Regions from separate parts of the Homo sapiens genome. Here region 2 is linked to region 1. The links come from fine-mapping of genetic effects on gene expression. A gene starts in region 1. The other region holds a variant in brackets. All regions are shown on one strand. Distances are between the middles of the regions.

Region 1 (15,071 bases):
TTCCCTATCTCAGTAGATGGAACGTACAATCGGGTTTTATACCGAGACATTCCATCGCCCAGGGACGGGCAGGAGACAGATGCCTTCCTCTTGTCTCAACTGCAAGAGGCATGCCTTCCTCTTATACTAATCCTCCTCAGCACAGACCCTTTACGGGTGTCGGGCTGGGGGACGGTCAGGTCTTTCCCTTCCCACGAGGCCATATTTCAGACTATCACATGGGGAGAAACCTTGGACAATACCTGGCTTTCCTAGGCAGAGGTCCCTGCAGCCTTCCGCAGTGTTTGTGTCCCTGGGTACTTGAGATTAGGGAGTGGTGATGACTCTTAAGGAGCATGCTGCCTTCAAGCATCTGTTTAACAAAGCACATCTTGCACAGCCCTTAATCCATTTAACCCTGAGTTTGACACAGCACATGTTCCAGAGAGCACGGGGTTAGGGGTAAGGTCATAGATTAACAGAATCTCAAGGCAGAAGAATTTTTCTTAGTACAGAACAAAATGGAGTCTCCTATGTCTACTTCTTTCTACACAGACACAGTAACAATCTGATCTCTCTTGCTTTTCCCCCACAGATGGAGTTTCGCCATGTTGTCCAGGTTGATCTCAAATTCCTGGGCTCAAGTGATCTGCCCACCTCGGTCTCCCAAAGTGCTGGCTTTACAGGCATGCACCACCATGCCCGGCGTCCATTATTTTATTTTGCATTTGTTGTTACAATTATCTGAGAGCATTTAGTTTCATGGTTTATAGGTTTAATTTTAATGGTTTATAAGTTTATAGCAGGCTGCTATCAGGTTAGCAAGTCCTACTGTTAAAATGATTGCTGTCCTGGGACATGGGCTTTATACTTACATTGAATTGCCTTACCTTTTACATTTAGTTGGCTGTGAAGAAGAGACAATGGCTGTTGATGAGTCAGGTAACTGTCTCCCACAGCAAATTAGTGCAGTGATGTAACTACTGCTTTTTTTTTTTTTTGAGACGGAGTCTTGTTCTGTTGCCCAGGCTGGAGTGTAGTGGTGCGATCTTGGCTCATTGCAACCTCTGCTCCTGGGTTCAAGCAATTCTCCTGCCTCAGCCTCCCAAGTAGCTGGGATTACAGGGGCACACTGCCACACCCGGTTAATTTTTTTTTTTTTTTTTGTATTTTAGCAGAGACGGGGTTTCACCATGTTGCCCAGGCTGGTCTTGAACTCCTGAGCTCAGACAATCTACCTGCCTCGGCCTCCCAAAGTGCTGAGATTACAGGCATGAGCCACCACACCCGGCATTTTTTTTTTTTTTTTTGAGATGGAGTCTCGCTCTTGTCATCCAGGCTGGAGTGCAGTGGTGCCATCTTGGCTCACTGCAACCTCCGCCTCCCGGGTTCAATCACTTGTCCTGCCTCAGCCTCCCAAGTAGCTGGGACTACAGGTGCCCACCACCATGCCCAGCTGATTTTTGTGTTTTTAGTGGAGACGGGGTTTCACCATGTTGGCCAGGCTGATATCGAACTCCTGACCTCAGATGATCCTCCTGCCTTGGCCTCCCAAAATGTTGGGATTACAGGCGTGAGCCACCGCTCCCGGCCTGTTTAACATTATTTTAAACCTCAAACCTGCTTTTCTTCCAGTGTTTCCTATGTCACAGGTTAATGACATCACTCATGTCACCAAGAAACTGGATTTAATTTACTCTTTCCTTTCATCCTAAATCCAATTAATCCTAAAGCCTGAAGAAATATACCTTGTATTTCCTTCTTTCTACCCTGCTGCTAATGTCATATTACAGTTCTGAGACTTCTCTTGTCTGGATCATTGCCGTGGCCTCCCAATTGCTCTCTTTGCCTAATCTCCTAGTCACTAAATTCATTCATCACACAGCTTCCAGAGTCAACTTCCTGAAACGTAGTTCAAATAATTTAATTCTACATCTCAAAAGTCTTCAACACATTGTAACATTTATTAAGTACTTCTATGCCAGTTACTGTGCTAGACTTGTTACTACAAATATAAATAAAACAAGGGGAATAATTCCCATGCTAATGGTGAGCAAATGAAGAGAGCACAATGGAATATATCTAAAAATAGAACTAGAGGTATACATCAGACCCTGCAAGAAAGCCTCCTCCCCATGGTTCTGAAATCTTTACTGTCCTTTGGAGAGACTCTACAAATCACTTAGACTTGTTCAACAGATTTCTTCTTTTTTCAGTACTCTGTCCAGTTATTTCACTTTTATGATCTTAAGGGGATAGACTGTTAACATTTCTCTAGGCTAGGATAACTCTTTTTTTTTCCTGTTTTTTTTTCTTTGTTTGTTTAGAGACTGGTTCTTGCAGCACTGCCTAGGCTGGGCTCAAACTCCAGGGCTCAAGTGATCCTCTCACCTCAGCCTACCAAGTAGCTGGGACTATAGTCACATGCCAAATGTGCTCCACTCTCTTTTAGTTCTTTTTTCTTTTCTTTTTTTCTTTTTTCTTTTTTTTTTTTTTTGAGACAGAGTCTTGCTCTGTTGCCCAGGTTGGAGTGCAGTGGCGGGATCTCAGCTCACTAAAACCTCTGCCTCCCGGGTTCAAGTGATTCTCCTGCTGCAGCCTCCTGAGTAGCTGGGATTGCAAGTGCCTGCCACCACGCCCAGCTAATTTTTGTATTTTTAGTAGAAACAGGTTTTCACCATGTTGGTCAGGCTGGTCTGGAACTACTGACCTCATGATCTGCCCACCTTGGCCTCCCAAAGTGCTGGGATTACAGGCTTGAGCCACCATGCCCGGCTTTTGTTCTTTTTTTTTAGACGGAGTCTCACTCTGTCACTCAGGCTGGAGTGCAGTGGCGCGATCTCGGCTCACTGCAACCTCCGCCTCCTGGGTTCAAGAGATTCTCCTGCCTCAGCCCCCTGAGTAGCTGGGACTACAGGTGCACACCACGAAACCCAGCTAATTTTTGTATTTTTAGTAGAGATGGGATTTCTCCATGTTGGCCAGGCTGGTCTCAAACTCCTGACCTTGTGATCTGCCCGCCTTAGCCTCCCAAAGTGCTGGGATTACAGGCATGAGCCACCGTGCCTGGCCTTGTTCTTGAATTAGAAAAATAAACTCAAGTGCCCAGCCCAATGCCTGGCATATGGTGAATACAATAGGTGGCAATTTTCTTTGGGCTGAAGTATGACTGTATGTACTGTGTATTGGTTTAGCCTGCCCATAGCCAATAACCATCCATTATTAAGCTCTGAACTTTCATGCTGCCCTTGCTCCTGCAAGAAAGAAAGGGGAGTCTCTCTGAGCCTACGCTGGCTGCTGGCTCGGGTGGCTGCCTGATAAAAAAGAATAAAAGTTACATAAAAATTAAAAAAAGGAATAATGCCAACTAACTATTCAGCCTCAGGCAAAGAAGGAAAAAGCAAATAAATCACGTCTATGCAAAGTAGTATGATAAATAACAAAAATTGAGATGCTCAATGAGCATGAGACAGCACTTCCTCATTCATTATCCCACTATAAGGGCCAAGGGAGTTAGTGAGGGAGCTGGGGACAGAGACAGAAACATGATACTATTGATTGAATGCTCACTGACTGAGCTCCTATTTTATATCAGATGCTTTGTTGTGACTTTGGGGACACAGAGACAGATGTCACCCACATCCTACTCTCCAGAAAGTCACTCTAGCAGGCAGAGGAAGAAATGTAAAACTAAAATTGCTTAAAAGATTTTTTTGGCTATACAAGCTATTGTTTGGACACAAAGGAGGGGAATTGTAAATCCTGGGAATGAGTAAAGGTAAGAAACAGCCGGAGAGAAAGTAATGCTGAAAGACATGTTTTCTCCAGGGAAAGAGTTTTCCAGGTTCAAACAAAAGTCTGAAGGCGGCCGGGCTCAGTGGCTCACTCCTGTAATCCCAGCACTTTGGGAGGCTGAGGCAGGTAGATCAACTGAGGTCAGGAGTTTGAGACCAGCCTGGCTGACATACTGAAACCCCGTCTCTACTAAAAATACAAAAAATTAGCCGGGCGTGGTGGTGGGCGCCTGTAATCCCAGCTACTTGGGAGGCTGAGGCAGGAGAATTGCTTGAACGCTGGAGGTGGAGGGTGCAGTGAGCAGAAGTCGTGCCATTGCACTCCTGCCTGGGCAAGAAAAGCGAAATTCCATCTTAAAAAAAAAAGTCTGAAGGCTTGAAACAACTACACTGTGTTCTGGGTGTTATAAGTGTGAAGGATGGAAGAGTTATACTAATAGCAGCTAACATTTCTAATTTATAATAAGAACTAAGTACTGTACTGAACTACATAGATAATCACAATAAAGTATTAATATTATTCCCATTTTACAGTTGAGAAAAGTAAGGTTTAATGAGTTTAAGACTTGCCCAAGTTCACACCTAAAATTACAGTGAGGAGTTTTTGTGTTTGTGTGTGTGTGTTTTTTTTTGAGACAGAGTTTCGCTCTTGTTGCCCAGGCTGGAGTGCAATGGCGCTATCTCAGCTCACTGCAACCTCTGCCTCCCTGATTCAAGCGATTCACCTGCCTCAGCCTCCAGAGTAGCTGGGATTACAGACATGCGCCACCACACGTGGCTAATTTTGTATTTTTAGTAGAGATGGGGTTTCTCCACGTTAGGCTGGTCTCGAACTCCTGACCTCAGGTGATCTGCCCTCCTCAGCCTCCCAAAGTGCTGGGATTACAGACATGAACCACCGCGCCCGGCCCTGACAGTGAGGAGTTTTAACTCAGTAAATTGACTACAGAGCCTCAGCTTTTATTTTATTTTTTATTTTTCTTTTCTTTTTAAATTTTACTTTCTTTCTTTCTTTAGCCCCAGCTTTTAAACCACGAATAACAGTGACATGATCAGACTTCAGAAAGATTTCCTTCAGCTGCAGTGGAAGGGATGGATAAGAGATAGTGTTAATTGAAATGAGTGACTAAACTGACTAAACCATGTCACAGACACTTTTGTGGCTGTTTCTTCCCCAGCTTTTAAACCACGAATAACAGTGACATGATCAGACTTCAGAAAGATTTCCTTCAGCTGCAGTGGAAGGGATGGATAAGAGATAGTGTTAATTGAAATGAGTGACTAAACTGACTAAACCATGTCACAGACACTTTTGTGGCTGTTTCTTCCCAAGAGGTTCTCAGGAGGTTTTTAGTATTTATACATTTTCCTTGAAAAGTGGGGGTGGGAAAGATTGAGGCAAAGACTTTAGCTAATGCTCAGGAAATCTACGTTTTGTTTTTTGAGACGGAGTCTTGCTCTGTTGCCAGGCTGGAGTGCAGTGGTGCTCTCGGCTCACTGCAACCTCTGCCTCCGGGTTCAAGCGATTCCCCTGCCTCAGCCTCCCAAGTAGCTAGGACTACAGGCGCGCCACCACACTCGGCTAAGTTTTTGTATTTTAGCAGAGACAGGGTTTCACCATGTTGGCCAGGATGGTCTCGATCTCCTGACCTTATGATCCGCCCTCCTAGGTGGCCTAAATCTACATTTTTACATAAGATAAGGTGAATGTTTGAAGAAAAAGGGAATGGAGGAAGAAAACAATTATGTGGTGGACTCAGGGTAATCTAGTAGTAAGGTACTACTAGAAAGGTAGAAAGTAGTCTAGTAGAAAGGTAATCTAGTAGTGAACATTTATGGAATTTGTGGAATAGAGGCCAGGTGCGGTGGCTCGCGCTTACATTCCTAGCACTTTGGGAGGCCAAGGCGGGCGGATCACCTGAGGTCAGGCGTTGGAGACCAGCCTAGCCAACATGATGAAACCTCGTCTCTACTAAAAATACAAAAAATTAGCTGGGCGTGGTGGTGCGTGCTTGTAGTCCCAGACACTCCGGAGGTGAGGCGGGAGAATCGCTTGAGCCCGGGAGGTGGAGGTTGCAGTAAGCCAACACCGTGCCACTGCACTACAGCCTGGGCGACAGGGTGAGTGAGACTCCGTCTCAAAAAAATGTGGAATAGAACAAACTTTAGTTTTAGGAACTAGACTTTATATTGTAGATCTAGTTGCAATTGACACGTCCTTGTTTTATGGGAGGCTACATACTTTAAAGGTTTCCAGGGGAGCAAATAATTAATTATGATTTTGTGTATGTGTGTTTGTGGGGGGTAGTCATCAGGAAATGTCTGAGGCCTTTTGCCTTACCGTGTGGGTCTGGCTAATGTGTAATGTTTTGACTCAAGATTGTAAAGTCAAATTATTCATCCGGGGAGAGGATGGTCGTGTAACTGAATCAGCCTCCCAAGATGAACTTTCCCTCTGGCGTAAGTTTAGGAGTCCTGATATTTTATTTTCCTTTACAACAGAAAGCAGCAACCCTGTAATTAAAGAGAACAATGAAGGAAGCTATCTAAGCCATGAGGGTTACTGAGGATCTGCGCTGGGGTTAAGGCTGCGAACTTAAGAAATATTTGGATAGACAGTTCTCATGGCTTGGTGTGGTTAGACGTGGTCCTCCGTGGGCAGCAGCTAAGACGCTTACTCCAGTTTGGGCATTGAGGGCACAGTGCGTAGTGGTCCTGGAAGTAAAGAGAATCCTGGTTTTCCGCAGAGATCTAGGATTAACCTAAGCGTTCGGGTTCGGGAGCGGCCACAAGGGCGCCTCACTCCAACCTCAGCCATCCGCAACAGGGTGGGGTATTAGTATTTTTCCGCACCCGCCCCAACGAGGGAAAGCGCCGAGTCATTCCGGCGGGGCGCGCCGGGCGGGGCTCGGGCCACATCCCCCTCCTCTCTCTCCTCCTCCGGCACCCCCGTCCGTTCCGACTCTCGCGAGATCCCTACTGGCTATAAAGGCAGCGCCCCGGAGAGCTCTTGCGCGTCTTGTTCTTGCCTGGTGTCGGTGGTTAGTTTCTGCGACTTGTGTTGGGACTGGTGAGTGTGGGCAGTGCGGCCCCTGCGGAGTGAGGCGCGGCGCGCCCTTCTTGCCTGTTGCCTCTTCCTCCTCCTGTCCGGGGCCCGCCCGCGCTCGGGTGGGGGTGCTGTGATGCGTGAGGCAGCCGGGGGAGGCCCGGAGTCCGAGACTGCTTGAGCGCTGCGCACACCCCTCTCGTGGGCCCCCCACGTAGGTGCGGGAACCTGGTTGAACCCCAAGGCAAGCGTGGACTCGAGTCGAGTCTTCCCCCGGCAACTCGAGCACGTGGCGCGGCGTCTGGGCGGGCTGGTGGTGGGGGTCTCCGAGACTAGCCTCCTGCCGGACGGGGTGGGTTCGGGAAGCTTCTGGAATGGACCTGTATCCAGACTCGTGGCTGTAGAAGACAGCCTCTATGTATTTGGCTGTTCCGGGTCCTGAGCCTTGACTAGCTGCGGAGCTTCGGGTACCCTTTCCCCGTCTTTATTTTCCTGTACGTGGAATGGAGTTAGCGATGAGCCCAAATGTCCCCGCTGAAGCACTCTCTCTGCTGGTGCTTTCTCCAGTGCTGGGGAGGGACAGGGGGCACCTGAAGTGGGGTTTAGGGATGTGGCCCTCTACGCTGGGCAGATCCCCTGAAGGGGCCCGGTGGCGGCCTGAATCCCAGCAGCCTTTACCCCGAATTGGTTGGGTTTTGTACTTGGGGGCCACTTGGGAAAGAAGGATTGGACGAGAAGGCCATTTGGGGGCACCAAGTTGCAGCATGCCTTAGTTTTTGGTTTTTGTTTTTTGTCGTTAAAGGTGTTAAGGACTTTTTAAAAAACAGTTAAAAGTTTGCTAAGATCCATGCTTACAAAATTTCTTTTGCTTGTGGTATTGTGAACTAAGAACTTTGGGACTTGGAAAAGCTTTCAGACCGCGGCTTAGTGGGTTAAATCTCTGTTTTTTGAGCTAGAGTCTCGCTCTGTCGGCCAGGCTGGAGTGCAGTGGCGCGGTCTCGGCTTACTGCAACCCCTGTCTCCCGAATTCAAGCAATTCTTCTGCCTCAGCCTTAGGAGTAGCTGGGATTACAGGCTTGTGCCACCAAGCCCCGGCTAATTTTTGTATTTTTTTTTTTTTTTTTTTTTTGAGACGGAGTCTCGCTCTGTCGCCCAGGCTGGAGTGCAGTGGCTGGATCTCGGCTCACTGCAGCCTCCGCCTCCCGGGTTCACGCCATTCTCCTGCCTCAGCCTCCCGAGTAGCTGGGACTGCAGGCGCGTGCCACCACCCCCGGCTAATTTTTTGTATTTTTGTTAGAGACGGGGTTTCACTATGATGGCCAGGCTGGTCTCGAACTTCTGACCTCAGGTGATCTGCCTGCCTCGGCCTCCCAAAGTGCTGGGATTACAGGCTTGAGCCACAGCGCTTGGCCAAGATCTCAATACTAATCTTGGTGTTGATCTGGGTGAATCCAGTGCAACCTTCCTTTTCAGCAGTAAATTGATTCTTATACTTGTTTTCGCCCTGGGATATTAGCCCCAAAGTCAGGAACCCACCTTCACAAATGGTGAAGGGAATTCTAGGGCTTACACAATACCTAAAGATTTGAAATTAAGCAGATGCCAATCAATATCTTGGTCTTGCCTCTTTTTTTTTTTTTTTTTTTTGGAGACAGAGTCTCACTCTGTTGCCCAGGCTGGAGTGCAGTGGCGCGATCTCAGCTTACTGCAACCTCTGCCTCCCGGGTTCAAGTGATTCTCCTGCTTCAGCCTCCTGAGTAGTTGCGATTACAGGCATGCACCACCACGCCCGACTAATTTTTGTGTTTCTAGTAGAGACGGGGTTTCACCATGTTGGCCAGACTGGTCTCGAACTCCTGACCCGGTGATCCGCCCGCCTGAGCCTCTCAAAGTGCTGGGATTACAGGTGTGAGACACTGCGCCCAGTGGTCTTGCCTCTTAAAAGTTGGACTGACTGGAAGGGCGCGGTGGCTCACGCCTGTAATCCCAGCATTTTGGGAGACTGAGTTGGGCAATCATCTGAGGTGAGGAGTTTGAGACTAGCCTGACCAACATGGAGAAATCCCGTCTCTAATAGAAGTACAAAAAAATTAGCCGGGTGTGGTGGCCTGCGCCTGTAATCCCAGCTACTATGGAGGCTGAGGCAGGAGAATCCCTTGAACCTGAGAGGTGGAGGTTGCAGTGAGCCGAGATAATGCCATTGCATTCCAGCCTGGGCCCCAAGAGCGAAACTCCGTCAAAAAAACAAAACAAAACAAAAACAAATAAAACAAGTTGAATTAGTTATAGGTTGTGTGCTGTCTTGGACAAAGCTACCTGGAGAAAAGTCAAATATGCTTCTGATGTTATGAAGGCAGGTGGAGGCACAGTGATGGGAAAGGTCAACGTGACTTTTGGGGAGCCAAACAAAAGTGTTTGTGGCATTGTGCATTTGGATTCTGGTTTGAGAGTCTTCATCTGCCTCTCTCTCTGCTTCTGTATAATGAATAAGATGCCACTGCACTAATTATGGTTCAGAAAGAATGAGAGGTTATCTCAGTATATAAAGAAATTGCCTTGCTGTTTTTAAATGAAAACAAAGGCTGAGATTCAGAGACTTGTTTCGTTCCAAAAGTTGGAAAGCTCAGACTGTGACCCTTGACTGCTGGCTGGAGCTTCTTACTAAAACAACATTTAATGTATTCAGGGACACTGGACAATGCCTTGATTGTTTACAGCTAAGTCTCTTTAAGTAGGTGAAGGCTGCTGGTTATGTAGAAAATTAAGGCTTGTTTCTAATTCATTTCTGTTATTTCTAGCTGATAGGAAGATGTCTTCAGGAAATGCTAAAATTGGGCACCCTGCCCCCAACTTCAAAGCCACAGCTGTTATGCCAGATGGTCAGTTTAAAGATATCAGCCTGTCTGACTACAAAGGTGAGAGAATTAACACTGGGCTCATTGAGATGGAGTTATTTTATATTCTAGGGGTGGCTTGTTAGATTTGTGTCAATGTTGTTTGACTGTAAAATGTTTTGTCTCCTAGGAAGAAGTATTTAGGTTGTTACCTTCATGTTGAAGTGGTGATTATCAAGTGATTACAGGGTATATATCCTAGGACCAAACCACTTCTGGAGAAACCACATGCTTCATTATGTCTGGACATACTAGCTCAATTATCTTTTCAGTATTCCTCGTCTATTTTCTTTCTTTATTTTTATTTTTGAGACAGGGTCTCATTCTGTCACCCAGGCTGGAGTGCAGTGGCGCAGTCATGGCTCACTGCAGCCTCTACCTCTCTGGGCTCAGGTGGTCCTCCTACCTCAGCCTCCCAAGTAGCTGGGACTGTAGGGGCATGCTGCCATGCCTGGCTAATTTTTGTACTTTTTTTTTTTTTTTTTTTTTTTGAGATGGAGTTTTGCTCTTGTTGCCCAGGCTAGAGTGCAATGGCGTGATCTCGGCTCACCACAACCTCCACTGCCCAGGTTCAAGCAATTCTCCTGCCTCAGCCTCCCGAGTAGCTGGGATTACAGGCATGCGCCATCATGCCTGGCTAATTTTTTTTTGTATTTTTAGTAGAGACGGGGTTTCTCCATGGTGGTCAGGCTGGTCTCGAACTCCTGACCTCAGATGATCCGCCCACCTCGGCGTCCCAAAATGCTGGGATTACAGGCATGAGCCACCACGCCTGGCTTAATTTTTGTACTTTTTGTAGAGCTGGGCGCCATGTTGCCCAGGCTGGTCTCCAACTCCTGGGCTCAAGCCCTCTGCCTGCCCTAGCCTTTCAAAGTGCTGGGATAACAGGTGTGAGCCACTGCCTCTGGCCCTCCTCTATTTTATTATTGGAGAAATACTCATTATCTCTTGTTATAAGAGACATTCTACATTTAAAGTCTCAGAGCTCACTCAAATCTCTGGAGCTGTGACACTGCTCGTTCAGTTTGTTTGGGTCACGTATATATCACAGCTGTTAATATTAGGCTGAGGGCTAGGCACTTTCCCTTGCCTGTTTTGACCCCGGAGGAGAGTTGATATTACAGATGGAACAACTCTCCTTTCTGTTGTCATAGTTTTTTTTTTTTTTTTTTTTTTTGAGACGGAGTCTCGCTTTGTCGCCCAGGCTAGAGTGCAGTGGTGCGATCTCAGCTCACTGCAAGCTCCGCCTTCTGGGTTCATGCCATTCTCAGGCCTCAGCCTCTTGAGTAGCTGGGACTACAGGCGCCCGCAACCATGCTTGGCTAATTTTTTTGTATTTTTAGTAGAGACGGGGTTTCACCATGTTTGCCAGGATGGTCTCGATCTCCTGACCTTGTGATCCGCCTGCCTTGGCCTCCCAAAGTTCTGGGATTACAGGCGTGAGCCACTGCGCCCGGCCTCTGTTGTCATAGTTTCATGCAGACACTTGGCAAGTTCTGTTGAGGCTCCTCCTTTCTTTACCTTGTAGTTCCAGAGCAGCTCGATCTCCTGGGACAGTTGAGGATATAGATTCCTTAGAATGCTAACCTGAAACTCAGGTGTCAAGTGTCCTTTTCTCAGTGGTGTAGCATTAGTCCCTGGAGTTAGTTTTTGGTAGAACATTTGACTAGGTTTCCTGACATAATCACACTTTGTTCTTGGGGCTTCTCCCAGCAAACAAGGTAAGTTGCACCATAGGGAGGTGACCTGGGCCCAGGGGTATAAGCAGGAGGTCTAGGAGGAGCTGTTCTCTGCCCTCCAGAGCTTGACCTGCTGAGGCCCCAAAGTGCTTGTTAGGCAAAGCTGGAAGGGTTGTTTAGATGAGTTAGTTTCCAGTGATACTGCAAAGTGGTAAATGTCAAAAAGGGCTGCTTGTTTGGCTTTTTTTTTTTTTTTTTGAGGTGGAATTTTGATCTTGTCGCACAGGCTGTAGTGCAGTGGCATGATCTCAGGTCACTGCGACCTCCATCTCCCCGGTTCAAGTGATTCTCCTGGCTCAGCCTCCCCAGTAGCTGAGATTTCAGGCCCCCGCTGTCACACCCAGCTAATTTTTGTATTTTTAGTAGAGACATGTTTTACCATGTTGGTCAGCCTGGTCTTGAACTCCTGACCTCAGGTGATCCACCCGCCTCGGCCTCCCAAACTGCCTCCCAAACTGCTGGGATTACAGACGTCAGCCACCATGCCACCACACCCAGCCTGTTTGACTTTTCAAACATTGCTGCTACCTGGAAATGAGTGAATATTTGGAATTGTTCTAGTATTTAAGCCTGGTGGGTGTGGCGAGAAGGCTGCCTGGCCAGTTTGAAGATCTGTTATTTCAGTGGTTAATCCCAGTGACTTCATTAAAATTGCAGCTAGAAGTTCTGTTACTCACTAGTACTTTTGTCTTTTCTGTCTCTCTCTGTCTCCCTCTTTCTCTCTCTCTCTCTGTGTATATGTATATATATATTTCTGTTGTTTTGAGACAGTCTTGCTGTGTTGCCCAGGCTGGCCTCAAACTCCTGGGGTCAAGGGATCCTCCCACCTCAGCCTCCCAAGTAGCTGGGACTACAGACACGCACCACTGTGCCTGGCTTAAAATTTTTCCTGTCCTGTCAGGCACGTTAGGAACACATGTGATCACTTAAACCATGCTTGTTCCATTACTATGGTTCATCACGGGAGAAGTGCAAAGGCTGTGACTTCTTATTGGTGTCTTATCTCTACAGCAGAGGAGTACTGCAATTCAGCTTTCTCTGGGTATTGTTAAGCATTGGCATTAGGCCATGCTTATAAGTGCATCCTTGCTTTTGCTATCTTTGGAGAACTTGGTGTTTATGTTAATTTTAGCCACTCAGAAAAGATCAAAATTAGACTGAACAGTGTTTACTCTGTATTGGTAGCTATGACATGGAGGCAGGAGAATAAAGTATGGGATTGGAAGTTTTTTTCATTCAGGTATTCCTAATGCACCAGGTTCTAAAAGTAGCTTCTAGGAGACATCTGTATTGAGCATCTTGGCAGTTAGTGGTTATTGTGTCAGCCATCAACTTGCTTCTTTTTGTATAGGAAAATATAAAGCAAGGAAGTCTGTGTCAAATGCTAACCATGACTCCGATTTTCCCCCCAGGAAAATATGTTGTGTTCTTCTTTTACCCTCTTGACTTCACCTTTGTGTGCCCCACGGAGATCATTGCTTTCAGTGATAGGGCAGAAGAATTTAAGAAACTCAACTGCCAAGTGATTGGTGCTTCTGTGGATTCTCACTTCTGTCATCTAGCATGGTAAATCTCTTGGTCTATTTGGCATGTGAACTTTTTTTTTTTTTTTTTTTTTTTTGAGATGGAGTCTTGCTTTGTCGCCCAGGCTGGAGTGCAGTGGTGTGATCTCCGCTCACTTCAAGCTCTGCCTCCCAGTTTCACGCCATTCTCCTGCCTCAGCCTCCTGAGTAGCTGGGACTACAGGCGCCTGCCACCATACCTGGCTAATTTTTTGTATTTTCAGTAGAGACGGTGTTTCACCGTGTTAGTCAGGATGTTCTTGATCTCCTGACCTCGTGATCTGCCCACCTCAGCCTCCCAAAGTGCTGGGATTACAGGTGTGAGCCACTGCACCTGGCTGGCATGTGAACTTTTAAAACAGCAACTGGGAAGCTTTGGCAATAGACTTTCAAGTATTGCCTTCTCATTGAAGGGAGTGCAAAGTCTGACTTTCTCTTATTGCTCTCATGACCTGGCAGCAGAGAAGAAGCAGCTTCAATTGCAGTTGAGTGTACCCTAGTGACCTACCTTAACTGTTCTCAGCATTCACTTTATTGCTGGAAAACGGAAAAAAAACAGTCTTTTTGGAAAGTTAGATTAGGAATATGGGAAAGGGGAAAGAGGAATGCGTACAGTCAAGTCAAGAGTTTGAATGTAACTGTATGTTTGCCTTTTGCCATAGGGTCAATACACCTAAGAAACAAGGAGGACTGGGACCCATGAACATTCCTTTGGTATCAGACCCGAAGCGCACCATTGCTCAGGATTATGGGGTCTTAAAGGCTGATGAAGGCATCTCGTTCAGGTATGTCATCAGGACAAGTATCCAGTTGGCTGAAAGCCTTTTATTTGGAGAGATCTAGAGCCCTGATCTGTAGAGACTCCTTGTCATTTCATTCCTTTATGCAGGGGCCTCCTCACTAAGGCCAGGCCAGTAGGAGTGTGGAGACCAGTCCATTTCCTTCAGGCTTCAAGCCTCTGTATTCTAACAAAGCACATCTCTAAACCTGTATTGCTTTTCCTTTCATCTCTTTTCCCAGGGGCCTTTTTATCATTGATGATAAGGGTATTCTTCGGCAGATCACTGTAAATGACCTCCCTGTTGGCCGCTCTGTGGATGAGACTTTGAGACTAGTTCAGGCCTTCCAGTTCACTGACAAACATGGGGAAGGTAAGCCATCTGTCTGATAACAGGACAACAGAGTGGTGGTATGAAGGGGTGGGTTGCCCCTTCACACCTGTGGGTGTTTCTCGTTAGGTGGAATGAGAGACTTGGAAAAAGACACGTAGACAAAGTATAGAGAAAGAAATAAGGGGGCCCAGGGGACCAGTGTTCAGCATACAGAGGATCCCGCCGGCCTCTGAGTTCCCTTAGTATTTATTGATCATTCTTGGGTGTTTCTCGGAGAGGGGGATGTGGCAGGGTCATAGGATAATAGTGGAGAGAAGGTCAGCAGATAAACACGTGAACAAAGGTCTCTGCATCATGAACAAGGTAAAGAATTAAGTGCTGTGCTTTAGATGTGCATACACATAAACATCTCAATGCCTTAAAGAGCAGTATTGCTGCCCGCATGTCCCACCTCCACCCCTGAGGCGGTTTTCCCCTGTCTCAGTAGATGGAACATACAATTGGGTTTTACACTGAGACATTCCATTGCCCAGGGACTGGCTGGAGACAGATGCCTTCCTCTTGTCTCAACTGCAAAGAGGCGTTCCTTCCTCTTTTACTAATCCTCCTTAGCACAGGGTGTCAGGCTGGGGGACCCCGGTCAGGTCTTTCCCTTCCCACGAGGCCATATTTCAGACTATCACATGGGGAGAAACCTTGGACAATACCTGGGTTTCCTAGGCAGAGGTCCCTGTGGCCTTCCGCAGTGTTTGTGTCCCCGGATACTTGAGATTAGGGAGTGGTGATGACTCTTAAAACGAGCATGCTGCCTTCAAGCATTTGTTTTAACAAAGCATATCTTGCACAGCCCTTAATCCATTTAACCCTGAGTTGACACAGCACATGTTTCAGGGAGCACAGGGTTGGGGATAAGGTTACAGATTAACAGCATCTCAAGGCAGAAGA
Region 2 (13,749 bases), 110 kb before region 1:
GGGCCTCCAGACTAAATAAATCAGGATTGTTCAACCATTTACAATAGCCACCCTGGCCTGGAACTAGCCTTTTGCCATCAGAGTTCCTGGAAAGCAGCAATTTTGTGATGCACTTTGTGGGCTATCAGGATTACATCCAAAGTTAACAAACACTACTAAAAAAAGTTTTGGGATTCAATAAATTAGGAAAATGCTGCATAACTGCCTCTCAAATTCTTATGTGCAGTTAAGTGCTTTGAGAAATTGCACAGTGAAGAACCTTGTTGAACTTTTTTCACCCCGGCACCTCCCAAACTCATTGAACTATTGAACTAGAGCCCTGTTTTTGGGAAGTCACTATTAATGTCCAATGGCTCTTCTGTATCCCATCTACCATTTTCCTTGAAGTGCCTAACCTCCGAAAGAGGTTGCATACTTCCCAAACATGTTAAGACAGGTAAGCCCTGGAAACTTATGTTCTCATGTAACATTTCACTCTTTGCTTTATGATTTTATAAGCTGAGCTTCTGTTTGTGTGCTTGTTCTGACTGATTTGTTCTTTCACCCTGTGTAGCCTAATGCATGGAAAGCTAACAGGATGGAGCACAAGTCAGGATCCCTTTCCTCTAGCCGGGAGTCTGCTTTTACCAGTCCAATCTCTGTTACCAAACCAGTGGTACTGGCTAGTGGTGCAGCTCTGAGTTCTCCCAAAGAGGTGAGTGAGGATGAAGCAGGACAGTCTTTTCTGAAATTGCCATTTCCCGTTCACTTAGATAACAAGTGTAATATGTATAGCTGTGACACTTGTTTTGTAGCTATATTTAGCTGAGAATAGTTTCTTTATTGATGTTTTCTGTTAGCATCCAAAAGTGGGCAGTGGCTAAATGGGATAGATGCTCTGTGGTGGACCAAGGTCATCCTATGTTAGACTGGCATTCTGCTGATGTCTGTAGAAAGATCAAAGAGGTGCCATGTAAGCCAGCTGCTCTTAACTATATAAACCCTGCAAAACTGAAGTTTGAACTGCTTAAATAAAAGGATTGTTTGGTTTAAGACAGAGTGATAAATAGGCTACCAGATTCTTGAAGTCAGCACTTAGTAGAAGAGAACCCCAGTTCTTGCTCTTTGCTGTCAGGAGCAACCTGTTTGTGGTATTTGCCCAGAGTCCCTCCAGCACCACCCCTCCAATTGAGATCAGCTCCTCTCGTCTGACCAAGTTGACCCGCCGAACCACCGACAGGAAGAGTGAGTTCCTGAAAACTCTGAAGGATGACCGGAATGGAGACTTCTCAGAGAATAGAGACTGTGACAAGCTGGAAGATGTAAGAGCATCCGCCTTTTCTGGGGGTAGCCTAGGAATTTTCCTTTGATACATACGTGATTTCTTCTTCTTAAAGGATAAAGATGTGGCAAGATTTTTAAATGTACAGAGATACTGTCTGTAGGTGTAACTGCCTTCTAGACCACATAGTAAAGTGAGTTTAATCCTTTTTTCAGCAAAAATGTTAAATTCGGGTTTATTTTAGTAATCACTCACCTATTGAAGTACATCTTGGTTGCTTCCAAGTGTTGGCAACTATGAATAAAACTGCAGTAAACATCCATGTGCAGGTTTTTGTGCTGGCATAAGTTCAACTCCTTTGGGTAAATACCAAGGAGCGCAATTGCTGGATCATATGGTAAGAGCATGTTTAGCTTGTCAGGAAACCACCAAACTGTCTTCCAAAGTGGTTGTGCCATTTTGCATTCCCACCAGCAATAAATGAGAATTTCTGTTGCTACACCTCCTCACCAGTATTCGATATTATCAGTGTTCTGGATTTTGGCCCTCCTGATAGGTGTGTAGTTTTAATTTGCACTTCCATGATGACATATCATGTGGAGCATCCATCTATGTATCTTCTTTGTTGATGTGTTTGTTCAGGTCCCTTACCCATTTTTTAATGAGGTTGTCTGTTTTCTTATTGCTAAGTTTTAAGAGTTCTTAGAGTTCTTTGTATATCTTAGTTAATAGTCCTTTATTAGATGTGTCTTTGACTACAGTTTCTCCAAGTCTGTGATTTGACTCTTCATTCTTTCTTATTTATTTATTTTGAGACAGAGTCTGGCTCTTATCACCCAGACTGGAGTGCAGTGGCACGATCTGGGCTCATTGCAACCTCCGCTTCCCGGGTTCAAGCGATTCTCCTGCCTCAGCTTCCTGAGTAGCTGGGATTACAGGCACCCGCCACCACGCCCAGCTAATTTTTGTATTCTTAGTAGAGATGGAGTTTCGTCATGTTGGCCAGGCTGGTCTTGAACTCCTGGCCTCAAGTGTTCTGCCTGTCTCAGCCTCCCAAAGTGCTAGGATTAAAGGCATAAGCCACCACATGTGGCCATATTTATTTATTTGTATTACTTTATTTTTTGAGATGGAGTTTCACTCTGTTGCCCAGGCTGGAGTGCAATGGAGCAATCTCAGCTTACTGCAACCACCGCCTTCCAGGTTCAAGCAGTTCTCCTGCCTCAGCCTCCCAAGTAGCTGGGATTACAGGCATGTGCCACCACATGACACACGTTATTTAGCTTCTTAGCTCTGGCCAGAGGACCAGGAAACTACAGTGCAGAACAAGAGGCAGAGGAAGGCCAACCTGCTTCCTTGAAGACCAAGAGCTCAGACCATAACTCTGGAACACAGCCTTGTGGTTCTGATAAGGAATTAGACCTGTGAGGATGAAAGAGTATACTATTTTCTGGAATTTTTTTTGTATGTAGTAGAGACAAGGTTTCACCATGTTGGTCAGGCTGGTCTCGGATTCCAGACCTCAGGTAATCCACCCACCTCAGCCTCCCAAAATGCTGGGATTACAGGCATGAGCTGCCATGCCCAGCCGGCCATATTTGTTTTTGAGACAGTGTCTCACTCTGTCGCCCAGGCTGAATGCAGTGGCATTAATGATCACAGTTCACTGCAGCCTCGACCTCCCCTCCTCAAGCTATGCCTCAGCCTCAGCCTCCCGAGTAGCTGGGACTATAGGCTTGTGCCACCATGCCTGGCTAATATTTTGTTTGGTACAGAGATAGCTTCTTGCTATGTTGCTCAGGCTGGTGTTAAACTCCTAGACTCAAGCAGTCCTCCCACCTTTGGCCTCCGAAAGTGCTAGGATTACAGGTGTGAGCAACTACACTGTCTTTTAATTCTCTTGACAGAGTGTTTTGCAAAGCAGAAATTTTTTTTATTTTAATGAAATCCAGCCTAATTAATTGTAGGCCAGTCACGGTGGCTCAAACCTATAATCCCAACACTTTGGTTGGCTGAGGTGGGCGGATCACCTGAGGTCAGGAGTTTGAGACCAGCCTGGCCAACCTGGCGAAACCCCGTTCCTACTAAAAACAGAAAAATTAGCCGGGCATGGTAGCATGCACCCATAGTCACAGCTACATGGGAGGCTGAGGCATGAGAATCACTTGAACATGGGAGGCGGGGGTTGCAGTGAGCCGAGATCGCGCCACTGCACTCCAGCCTGAGCAACAGAGTGAGACTTGATCTCCAAAAATAAGTAAGTAAATAAACAAATAAATAAATAAATAAATGTCATACCCAAGGTAATCTAAGTTTTCTTTTATGTTATCCTTATAGGAGTTTTATAGTTTTGTGTTTTACATTTAGGTCTGTGACCCATTTTGACTTTATTTTTGTGACGGCTGTAAGGTCTTTGTTTAGATTGATTTTTTTTTTTTTAGTGTGGCTGTCCAATTGTTCCCTCACCATTTGTTGAAAAGACTATCTTTTCTCCATTGTATTTCCTTTGTCAAAGATCAGTTGTCTATTTGTGGGCTCTCTGTTCTGTCCCATTGGACTATTTGTGTCATCTTCTGCCAGTACCACACTTTTTCCCCCCACACCTCTTATGAGCACTGTTACCATACTGTTTTAATTACTCCAGCTTTTGTGGTAAGTCTTGATGTCAGGTAATATCAGTACTCTGGTTTTATTCTTCAGTATTGTGTTGGCTGTTCTGGATCTTTTGCCTTTTCATTAAAACTTTAGAATCAGTTTTGTTGATGCAGCAGGTCCTCATTTGTAAATGGGGAAAAAAATCTGTGGGCTGAGGCTGTCTTTTGGAAAACACTTCCTGGGTCGTGAGTCCTTGATTTCATAGGTTGCTTATATTACTACAAAGGAACCTTAAACCAACTGTGTCCTTCCTTTTCCTTATTGCAGTTGGAGGACAACAGCACACCTGAACCAAAGGAAAATGGGGAGGAAGGCTGTCATCAAAATGGTCTTGCCCTCCCTGTAGTGGAAGAAGGGGAGGTTCTCTCACACTCTCTAGAAGCAGAGCACAGGTAAGTGAGGAGGACATCACAGGGCATGCAGTGTCTGACCTTTAAGGACCTTGAACATACTGGAGAAGATATCTCAGATAGATAGGTCCCACATGCAGAGAGAAGTGGCCCAGTCATAACTTGTTCTCTGTGTATGCCCCAGGTTGGCCTGTTGCTCATCAAGCATTCTCTCTCAAACTCAGCCATCTTTTCCACAATCTACTCTCCAATACTTTAATACTTTTAACTTCAGGCCGGGCGCAGTGGCTCATGCCTGTAATCCCAGCACTTTGGGAGGCTGAGGTGGGTGGATCAGTCAAGGTCAAGAGTTTGAGACCAGCTTGGCCAACATGGCGAAACCCTGTCTCTACCAAAAATACAAAAAGTAGCTGGGCATGGTAGTGTGCGCCTGTAATTCCAGCTACTAGGGAGGCTGGGACGGGAGAATGGCTTGAACCCGGGAGGCGGAGGTTGCAGTGAGCTGAGATTGTACCACTGCACTTCAGCCTGGGTGACAGAGTGAGACTCCATCCCAAAAAAAAAAAAAAGCCAGACTGCAAGTGCTCTCTTTCTTCCTTACACTGTCTTGGTTTTGCTTCTACTGTCTCTTCTTTAGCTCTTCCTCTCTCAACTGTGAAGAGCCTCCATTTATTTACAGCACCCAGGTAGCCACAATTAAAGCTTGTCCCACAGGGAGGAAAACAAAATTCCTTCTTTAACATCCATTGCCCCTGGGCAGAAAACTTTTCTGTGAAAAGTGGTGGGCTGTTCACTTAGGCTTAGTGATGTTGTATTCTCTTTACCTGTCCTTCTGCGTCCACCAGGTTATTGAAAGCTATGGGTTGGCAGGAATATCCTGAAAATGATGAGAATTGCCTTCCCCTCACAGAGGATGAGCTCAAAGAGTTCCACATGAAGACAGAGCAGGTATGTTGTAAACCTTCTTCCTAGAGACCAGTTAGTAACCAGGAGAATAAGGAGTCAAGACAGTTCTTGCCCTGAGGGAGCAAGTTTAATGTGAGAGAAAGATCGGGTGGGGGGGGGGGGGATTACCTTAGTAGAAATGTAGTGGGGCCCCTAAATCTGCCTGGGAAATAAGGATCCCCAGTGTTATATACAAAAACCAAGTGTCAGTGATTAGCAGATTCCAAAAAATAGTATGCTCTTTCATCCTAACAGCTCTAACTCCTTATCAGAACCACAAGGCTGTGTTCCAGAGCTATGGTCTGAGCTCTTGGTCTTTAAGGAAGCAGGTTCACCTTCCTCTGCTTCCTGATCTGCACTGTAGTTTCCTGGTCCTCTGGCCAGAGCTAAGAAGCTAAATAGCTTGTGTCAGTTTATCCAGCAGTTGCTTGGATTCTTTCTCTGAATAAAACACTGCTAGATCTTAGGGTGAACAAGACAAATGGGGTTTCTATAAAAATCCTTGAACTTCTGGTGGCCTGTATTTACAGCACAATTGGCCAAGTCCTTAAAAGGGGCATGGCACAAGCTGATGTGAGACCTTGCCACTTAGAACTCTGTTAGAAATAAGGACTTATGGCTGGGCACAGTGGCTCACGCCTGTAATCCCAACACTTTGGGAGGCCGAGGCAGGCAGATGACGAGGTCAGGAGCTCAAGAGCATACTGGCCAATATGGTGAAGCCCCATCTCTACTAAAAATACAAAAATTAACTAGGCGTGGTGGTGTGCGCCTGTAATCCAAGCTACTTGGGAGGCTGAGGCAGGAGAATCGCTTGAACCCAGGAGGCGGAGGATGCAGTGAGCCAAGATTGTGCCATTGCACTCTAGCCTGGGTGACAGAGCGAGATTCCGTCTCAAAAAAATAAATAAATAAAAAGAAATAAGGACTTTCAAGCCCCATCCCAGACATTCTGAATCTGAATCTGCATTTTTGAAAGATGCGTAGATGACTCGTAAATTAAAATTTGAAAAGTACTGGTATAAGAGATCTCAGAGGGTCTCTTAGAAGCACCCCCCGCCCCACATTCTACCTAGAATTGAATTGAGGCCTGGCCTTTCCCAGGGCTTATGGGTCAGTACAGTCATTGATATTTTTTTCTTTTTTCTTTCTCTCCCATGCTAACCATAGCTGAGAAGAAATGGCTTTGGAAAGAATGGCTTCTTGCAGAGCCGCAGTTCCAGTCTGTTCTCCCCTTGGAGAAGCACTTGCAAAGCAGAGTTTGAGGACTCAGACACCGAAACCAGTAGCAGTGAAACATCAGATGACGATGCCTGGAAGTAGGCATATAAATGCTCACAGTTAAATCTGACCCAGTAAACTCTGTGTGTTTAGGGAGTATACAAAAGAAATCGTTCTTTTCCTTTTCTTATGTTGTTGAATACTTCATTCACAAGGGAAATAATCATATCCCAAAGAGAGAGCAATTGGCTTGTTTTGCTTTTGTTATTGTTCTTCCCTGTTATCTGCTTTATAGAGAGAAGTTTGTGTGGTGGGACAGATTTTTTAAACACACTCACACACACACACACATACACACCCAGTATATATGGGGCGATGCACAGGTAGGAGCTGGCAGTGCAGGGAAGAGGAGACACTGGTCTGCAGCAACAGCTTCTACTACCAGCCCTTGGGGCACTCACCCCTGTGATCAAGCAATCATTGTCAATGACAAAGTGACTATTGAAGTTATAATTGTATTAAATTAATGCTAATAATTTGGATATTTTATTTTATTTTTGGCTGCTCGGGTAACTTTAGCCCTTAACCAAGCATATGTGGGTTTTTTTGGTTGTTTTTTTTTGTTTTTTTTTTCTTTTTCCTTTTTGGGTACAGCTGTAAAATATTTGGATATAGGAAATGTTGTGTTATTCTTGCAGCCTTGATATTCAGGGTGGATTGTAAAATATAAATTTTTGTGAGATTTCAAAGATTAAGATTATTTTGATAACATTATTTACAGATTTAAAAGATGTGGTTATCACAAGTCTCGAGGGGGAAACTACTGCATAAAATAACTAACTTGGAATAAATATTTTGCATCAGTTTGGATTGTCTTGTGTAAGAAGTATATTTTCTTTAAAATTAGATGAGTGGATTCTTTTTTAGGGGAAATATTTTTAGAAGTTGGGGGGAAATGTGAATTCAGACACAACTGTTTCTCTATTTTAGCAGATACTTTTTTGATGCAGAAAAACCTGTGCAATAAATTACCAGTAATAAAGTCAGAAACCAAGTTTTTTTTTTTTCCTGAAACTGTTTTTTAGTGCCCATGTATTTACCAGTGTACGTATTTTAAGGGAAGTCTGTTCTGTTTTCCTACTAAATAAGAACTTGGAGTGGGGGTTGGGGGAGAGTTGGACGATGGTAGCTGAATGGCTAGTGAAGGAAGCAGGTTTTTTCATTCAACAAATACTTTTTTTTTTTTTTTGAGACGGAGTCTCACTGTGTCACCCAGGCTGGAGTGCAGTAGCGATCTCAGCTCACTGTAAGCTCCGCCTCCCGGGTTCCCACCATTCTCCTGCCTCAGCCTCCTGAGTAGCTGGGACTACAGGCGCCTGCCACCACGCCTGGCTCATTTTTTGTATTTTTAGTAGAGATGGGGTTTCACCGTGTTTGCCAGGATGGTCTCGATCTCCTGATCTTGTGATCCACCCACCTCGGCCTCCCAAAGTTCTGGGATTACAGGCGTGAGCCACCGCACCCGGCCCATTCAACAAATACTTTCTAAGCCCGTGTTGTATGTCCCAGGCATTATGCAAGGCTCTGAGGATGCAAGGAGTGCCCAGCCCAGTAGGGGAGAGAATAGACAGTGATGTAAGAAAAGGACAGGGGTTCAAGACCAGCCTGGGCAACACAGTGACCTGTCTCTATAAAAAACAAAAACATTAAAATGGTCAGGTCCAGCCAGGCGTGGCTCACGCCTGTAATCCCAGCACTTTGGGAGGCTGAAGCGGGTGAATCACCTGAGGTCAGGAGTTCGAGACCAGCCTGGCTAACATGGTGAAACCCCATCTCCACTGAAAATACAAAAAATTAGCCAGGCATGGTGGCGGGCGCCTGTAGTCCCAGCTACTCGGGAGGCTGAGGCAGGAGATTGGCGTGAACCCAGGAGGCAGAGCTTGCAGTGAGCTGAGATAGCGCCACTGCACTCCAGCCTGGGAGAAAGAGTGAGACTCTGTCTCAAAAAAAAAAAAAAAAAAAAACAACCAGGCATGGCAGCAAGCACCTGTAATCCTAACTATTTAGGAGGCTGAGGCAGGAGAATTGCTTGAGCCCAGGAGGCAGAGGTTGCAGTGAGCCCATACTGCACCATTGCACTCCAGCCTGGGCAACAGAGCAAGACTCTGTCTCAAAAACAGAAACAAAATAGACAGGTCCACGTGGTAGCACACACTTGTAGTCCCAGCTTCTTGGGAGGCTAAGGCAGGAGGATTGCTTGATTCCAAGGCAGTTCAGGGCTACAGTGAGCCATGATGGCACCACTACAATCCAGCCTGGATGACAGTCCTGCTCCCGCCTCTTCGGCCTAGAGCAGGAGATTAGAGAACTACAAGCTGTCTCTTGAGGGAAAAAAAAAAAAAATGGTAGTAGTATTTCTACTGAATGCCTATCACTGTTGCACCATTGTAAAGTCAACCAGTCAAAAGTCTTAACCATTGAAAATTGGGACAAACTTAGTTGTTGAAAAGGAGGTTTTGATTTGGGCTTTGCCATTTACTTGTTTTCTGAGAACATATTTCTAAAAATGTACTCTTTATGTCAGTTGGAATTAAGCTGAACTGAGATGACATACTTTGAACACTTTGTAACTTGCTGCTGGTGGGTCATACCTTGGCTTTAGGTACTGAGTAGGGAAATGTCTTAAGTCCCTGTCTTGTTTAGAAAAGGGAGTTTCGGCCAGGCATGGTGGCTCACACCTGTAATCCCAGCACTTTGGGAGGCCGAGGCGGGGGAATCACGAGGTCAGGAGATCGAGACCATCCTGGCTAACACTGTGAAACCCCGTCTCTACTAAAAATACAAAAAATTAGCCAGGCATAAGGCTGGGCGCAGTGGCTCACGCCTGTAATCTCAGCACTTTGGCACGCCGAGGCGGGCGGATCACAAGGTCAGGAGATCAAGACCATCCTGGCTGACACGGTGAAACCCCATCTCTACTAAAAATACAAAAAAAATTAGCCGGGCACAGTGGTGGGCACCTGTAGTCTCAGCTACTCGGGAGGCTGAGGCAGGAGAATGGCTTGAACCCGGAAGGCGGAGCTTGCAGTGAGCCCAGATAGTGCCACTGCACTTCGGCCTGGGCGAAAGAGCGAGACTCCGTCTAAAAAAAAAAAAAAAAAAAAGCCGGGTGTGGTGGCAGGTGC[C/A]TGTAGTCCCAGCTACTGGGGAGGCTGAGGCAGGAGAATGGTGTCAACCTGGGAGGCAGAGCTTGCAGTGAGCCGAGATCGTGCCATTGCACTGTAGCCTGGGCAACAGAGCGAGACTGTCTCAAAAAAAGAAGAGAAAAGGGTGTTTCTTGGCCGGGCGCAGTGCCTTACGCCTGTAATCCCAGCACTTTGGGAGGCCAAGGCGGGCAGATCACGAGGTCAGGAGATCAAGACCATCCTGGCTAACATGGTGAAACCCCGTCTCTACTAAAAAATACAAAAAATGAGCCAAGCGTGGTGGTGGGCACCTGTAGTCTCAGCTACTTGGGAGGCTGAGGCAGGAGAATGGCGTGAACCCAGGAGGCAGAGCTCATTGCAGTGAGCTGAGATCGCGCCACTGCACTTCGGCCTGGGCGACAGCGAGACTCCATCTCAAAAAGAAAAAAAAAAAAGTAAAGAGGGTTTCTTAAGAAATATGCGGTCACCTCAGAGCTCCTCCATATATTTTGGGAGTGGGAGTGGAGTGAAGAATTTCACCAACAGTTCAGGGTCTTTCTGGCTTCTGGCCAATCTTGGGAGAGAGAAGGGGTTTTTTTCTGGACTTGATTCCCTCATCTGATAGATTCATTCTGTTCGCCCACAGCTTTCATTTCTTGGGCTGTGCTGATTATCTTCGTCTACAGCTGAAAAATGAGGAATCAGGGAATGGGAGTTAGGGAGACTGCTATCCCTGGTGCGACATGGTTTCCAGGCAGAATGCTGGAAAGGTCAGAGTGCCTCCTTTGCCAGGTAGTTCTCTGGATTGGAGAATGGTACAAACTGTTACATCCACTTGGGAGTACAGCAATGAAAAAGATGACACTTGCCTTTTAGAGGCTATTAAATGACCAATGATGTAGTAAGTGATAAGGGCCCAGCCTAGTCTAGGAGGCAGCTGCTTTTTCCTCTTTATTAATAGTCAGGGAAACCAAGCTACAATTAGAGACTTGCCCACGTTCAGACTTTGTAACACTTTTTCAAGCCAGTGGCTCCTCCCAAACGGCCGAGGTTTCCCCACCCATTCTCCTGACCTGCCCAGCCCTGTGGTTGCTGTCCAGGGAGCTAAGGCTCTCCCCAAACAAACTTGAAGATCTCACAGACCTAATAGACACGGCCTTTCCTCTCTGCCTCTGGCTTTATGTCTCTTTCATCCTCCTCTGCCTTTCCCCTGCCCTTGATCCCTTCTGCAGGTCTTGGCTGGTTTCAGGAAACGGGTCCCATCCCATGGACTCCCACTCTGGGGAGCCTGCGCTCCTGCCCTGTGGGACCTGTGACATGGTTTTCCGCTCCTCAGCTCTGTTAGCCACCCATACTCAGCGCTTCTGCATTGGCCACCCGACCCAAGAGATGACATTTGGAGCACAGGCATCAGTTGCCACTGAACCCCAGCGGGCCGCGGTAAGGGCCTCCATGGCCATGGGTGGGGATTCAAAGGAGCCAGGACCTTTATGATTCCTCATCCTACTACACCCTATCCCCAGGTTGTGCCACAAGAACACCAGGGCGTGCCACAAGAACCCCAGGGCCTCCCAGACCAGCAGGCCAGTAGATCTGCTCTAAAGAGGTTAACAGAGGAGGTAGAGCTACCTACCTTCCCCCAGGGCTCAAAACGTTGAGCGTCTTCCCCAAACCTGTAGATCATACTTGGGACAGATTCTGCCCACGCAGAGATCGCGGATCGCTGTTACCTCCAGGTGCAGTGGCTGCGGCTATCCCTACAGGAAATGCGGCCCTGGATAACAGAGGTCCCCAGGGTGTTCGCGGGGCCCTGGACACGTTCCGAGGCGCGGCCTCAGAGTCCCATGTCCGAGGCGGTGGGAAGCCCCAGCGAGCGGCTGCGGGCGCTGTTCAGGACTCGCGCGAGGCGCGTGGCGGAGATGGAAGCGCAGAGCCGGGCCCTGCAGCTACGCGGCGAGGGTGAAGGAGATGGGGGACGGGGACCAAGGACCTCCTCTGCCCTCGCCGTTTGGCTTAAGCTTGCTCGGGCCGGTTCTGACTCGGCCCGCATTCCCTCAGAACTGAGCCGACGCCTCCAAGTTGTGGCCTGTACGCGGGGCGGGATGTCCCGCCTCTTCGGCCTGGAGCAGGAGATTCGAGAACTACAAGCTGAGGCCGGGAGGACGCGGGGAGCTCTAGAGGTGTTGGGGGCCCGCATTCAGGAGCTGCAGGCGGAGCCAGGGTGAGACCCGACTAAGCGGATCCCCGGAACATGCGGCTCCGGGGTGGGAGGGGCGGGCTGGCTGCAGCCCCGGGGCCTCTGATGCGTTACCGTCTCCCTGCGCGTCGCCTGCCACCCCAGGAACCCGCTGAGCTCCCGGCGAGAGGCAGAACTTTATTCTCCAGTGCAAAAGGCCAACCCGGGAACTCTGGCTGCCGAAATCCGGTGAGAGCCGGGGCCGGAGATGGGCATAGGGCGAAGCGCTGAGCAGTTCTGGAAAGACGGCCTTCCTGTTCCCCACTCCCTAGGGCGCTGCGGGAGGCCTACATTCGAGACGGGGGCCGGGACCCCGGCGTGCTGGGCCAGATATGGCAGTTGCAGGTGGAGGCGTCTGCACTGGAGCTGCAGCGGTCGCAGACCCGCAGAGGTGAACAGGAGGGCCTCTCGCCAGCGGTGGTCAGTCCTGGGAGGAGAAAAGAACTCGAGGGAGGGCCTGTGGCTGTGGATGGCATGTGAGCTGACAAGTCCAGCCTTATCCGAAGAGCCTTAGCGCTGGAGAGCTGCTCACAGCCGGACGCGGCCAGTCACCAGAGGTCAAAGGTGACAGGTCACACTTGTTCATCGCAGGAAGGGCAGGTGCCACCTCAGGGGAGCTTCCAGTAGTGGAGGCTGAAAACCGGCGCTTGGAGGCAGAAATCTTGGCCTTGCAAATGCAGAGGGGTCGGGCACCCTTGGGTCAGTGAGCACCCCAACCCTATCCCATCCCACTTATCTCTCCCCAGCAGGCCTGGCTCAGGCAGACAGTGCATGGGGAACAAGACCCGTGTTTGTGACTCCCCTAGTTCATGTCTGCACGTGTGTATCCCTGTATCCACAGGGCTCCGCCAACCCATTTGTGGGCCCAACTCTTGGGGGAGGGGTATCTCAGCTAATTACCTGCTTTGTCCAACTTAGGGGCACCCTAACTCTTCTGCTCCTAGGGCCCCAGGATCTGCGACTCCTGGGGGATGCCAGCCTACAACCGAAGGGGAGGAGAGATCCCCCACTCCTCCCGCCACCGGTGGCACCACCGCTGCCACCACTTCCAGGCTTCTCGGAGGTTCAGTTCTTGGGTGGGGCAAAGGCTGTGAGGACACGGGGTGGGTTGGGGGAACAGGTTGGAGGCAGCTCTGCTCTGAGCAGTTGGGGGAACATGAGCAGCTACAAGGCTTTCTGGAGGAGTCAGCTCTCTTCCCCACAGCCACAGCTTCCTGGAACAATGACCAGAAACCTGGGCCTGGACTCACACTTCCTCCTGCCCACATCGGACATGCTGGGCCCTGCACCCTATGATCCTGGGTGAGGCCCGTGCCACCTTCGACAGCCTCTGTGACTTGGCCAGCACTGCTGGTTAAGGGAGCCCACTAGGACCAGATAGGGTTAGGGACCTGCCTGAGAGGAGGGAGGTTGAAAGGAGTTGGGTATTTCTGTGCTAAGACTTGTGTTCCCCAGGGCTGGCCTGGTCATTTTCTATGATTTCCTGCGGGGCCTTGAGGCTTCCTGGATTTGGGTGCAACTAAGGACTGGCTTGGCACGCGATGGACGGGATACAGGAAGGACCACAGCGTTGCCCCCAGCCCTTTGCCTGCCCCCACCTCCTGCTCCCGGGCCCATGGGCAACTGTGCCATCCTTGCCAGCAGGCAGCCTGTGCCCAGGTCAGTAGGTGGGGATCATGACTCTGGTACTCTGCCACAGTTGAGGCTTATCCACCATTCTGCTAAGTTTTCTCATCTGTATACAGAGGCCGCTGGCTCTAAAGGGCTAAGTCCTAGAAAGGGACTGTAGCTCTGGCTTCCGACACTGCTTTTTGGTTATTCTACAGACTACCACCCTCATCATCAGTATCTTTGGTCTGTGAGCTGCAGGTCTGGCAGGGGCTAGCATGGGCTAGGGCA

Which allele goes with the higher level. Positions count from the first base shown, and alleles are read on the strand shown. Sizes are in standard deviations (SD) of each study's normalised expression.
As copies of A replace C in region 2, the expression in subcutaneous fat of the gene that starts at base 6,788 in region 1 goes down (large effect, 1.0 SD a copy in TwinsUK).

What was found. PIP is the estimated chance that this variant, and not a neighbour inherited with it, causes the effect.
Region 2: its variant is the best candidate, but not a certain one, in a credible set for the expression of PRDX1 in subcutaneous fat (TwinsUK, PIP 0.51).

What each region holds. Positions count from the first base shown.
Region 1 is chr1:45,513,601-45,528,671 of GRCh38, reverse strand. PRDX1 (peroxiredoxin 1) reads left to right here and starts at 6,788. Exons shown (of 6, transcript NM_181697.3): 1 at 6,788-6,843; 2 at 9,618-9,734; 3 at 12,865-13,018; 4 at 13,677-13,799; 5 at 14,035-14,165. The coding sequence starts at 9,629. RefSeq lists enhancers at 1,110-1,618, 6,310-6,389 and a silencer at 7,432-7,594.
Region 2 is chr1:45,621,041-45,634,789 of GRCh38, reverse strand. It overlaps CCDC17 (coiled-coil domain containing 17), which reads left to right and starts at 10,736. Exons shown (of 13, transcript NM_001114938.3): 1 at 10,736-11,054; 2 at 11,138-11,233; 3 at 11,351-11,573; 4 at 11,673-11,835; 5 at 11,956-12,039; 6 at 12,123-12,241; 7 at 12,442-12,549; 8 at 12,795-12,913; 9 at 13,055-13,152; 10 at 13,306-13,509; 11 at 13,677-13,749. The coding sequence starts at 10,881. It overlaps GPBP1L1 (GC-rich promoter binding protein 1 like 1), which reads left to right. Exons shown (of 13, transcript NM_021639.5): 9 at 554-694; 10 at 1,143-1,301; 11 at 4,184-4,308; 12 at 5,112-5,214; 13 at 6,382-7,486. The coding sequence ends at 6,534. The variant C/A (reference allele first, on the strand shown) is at 9,618.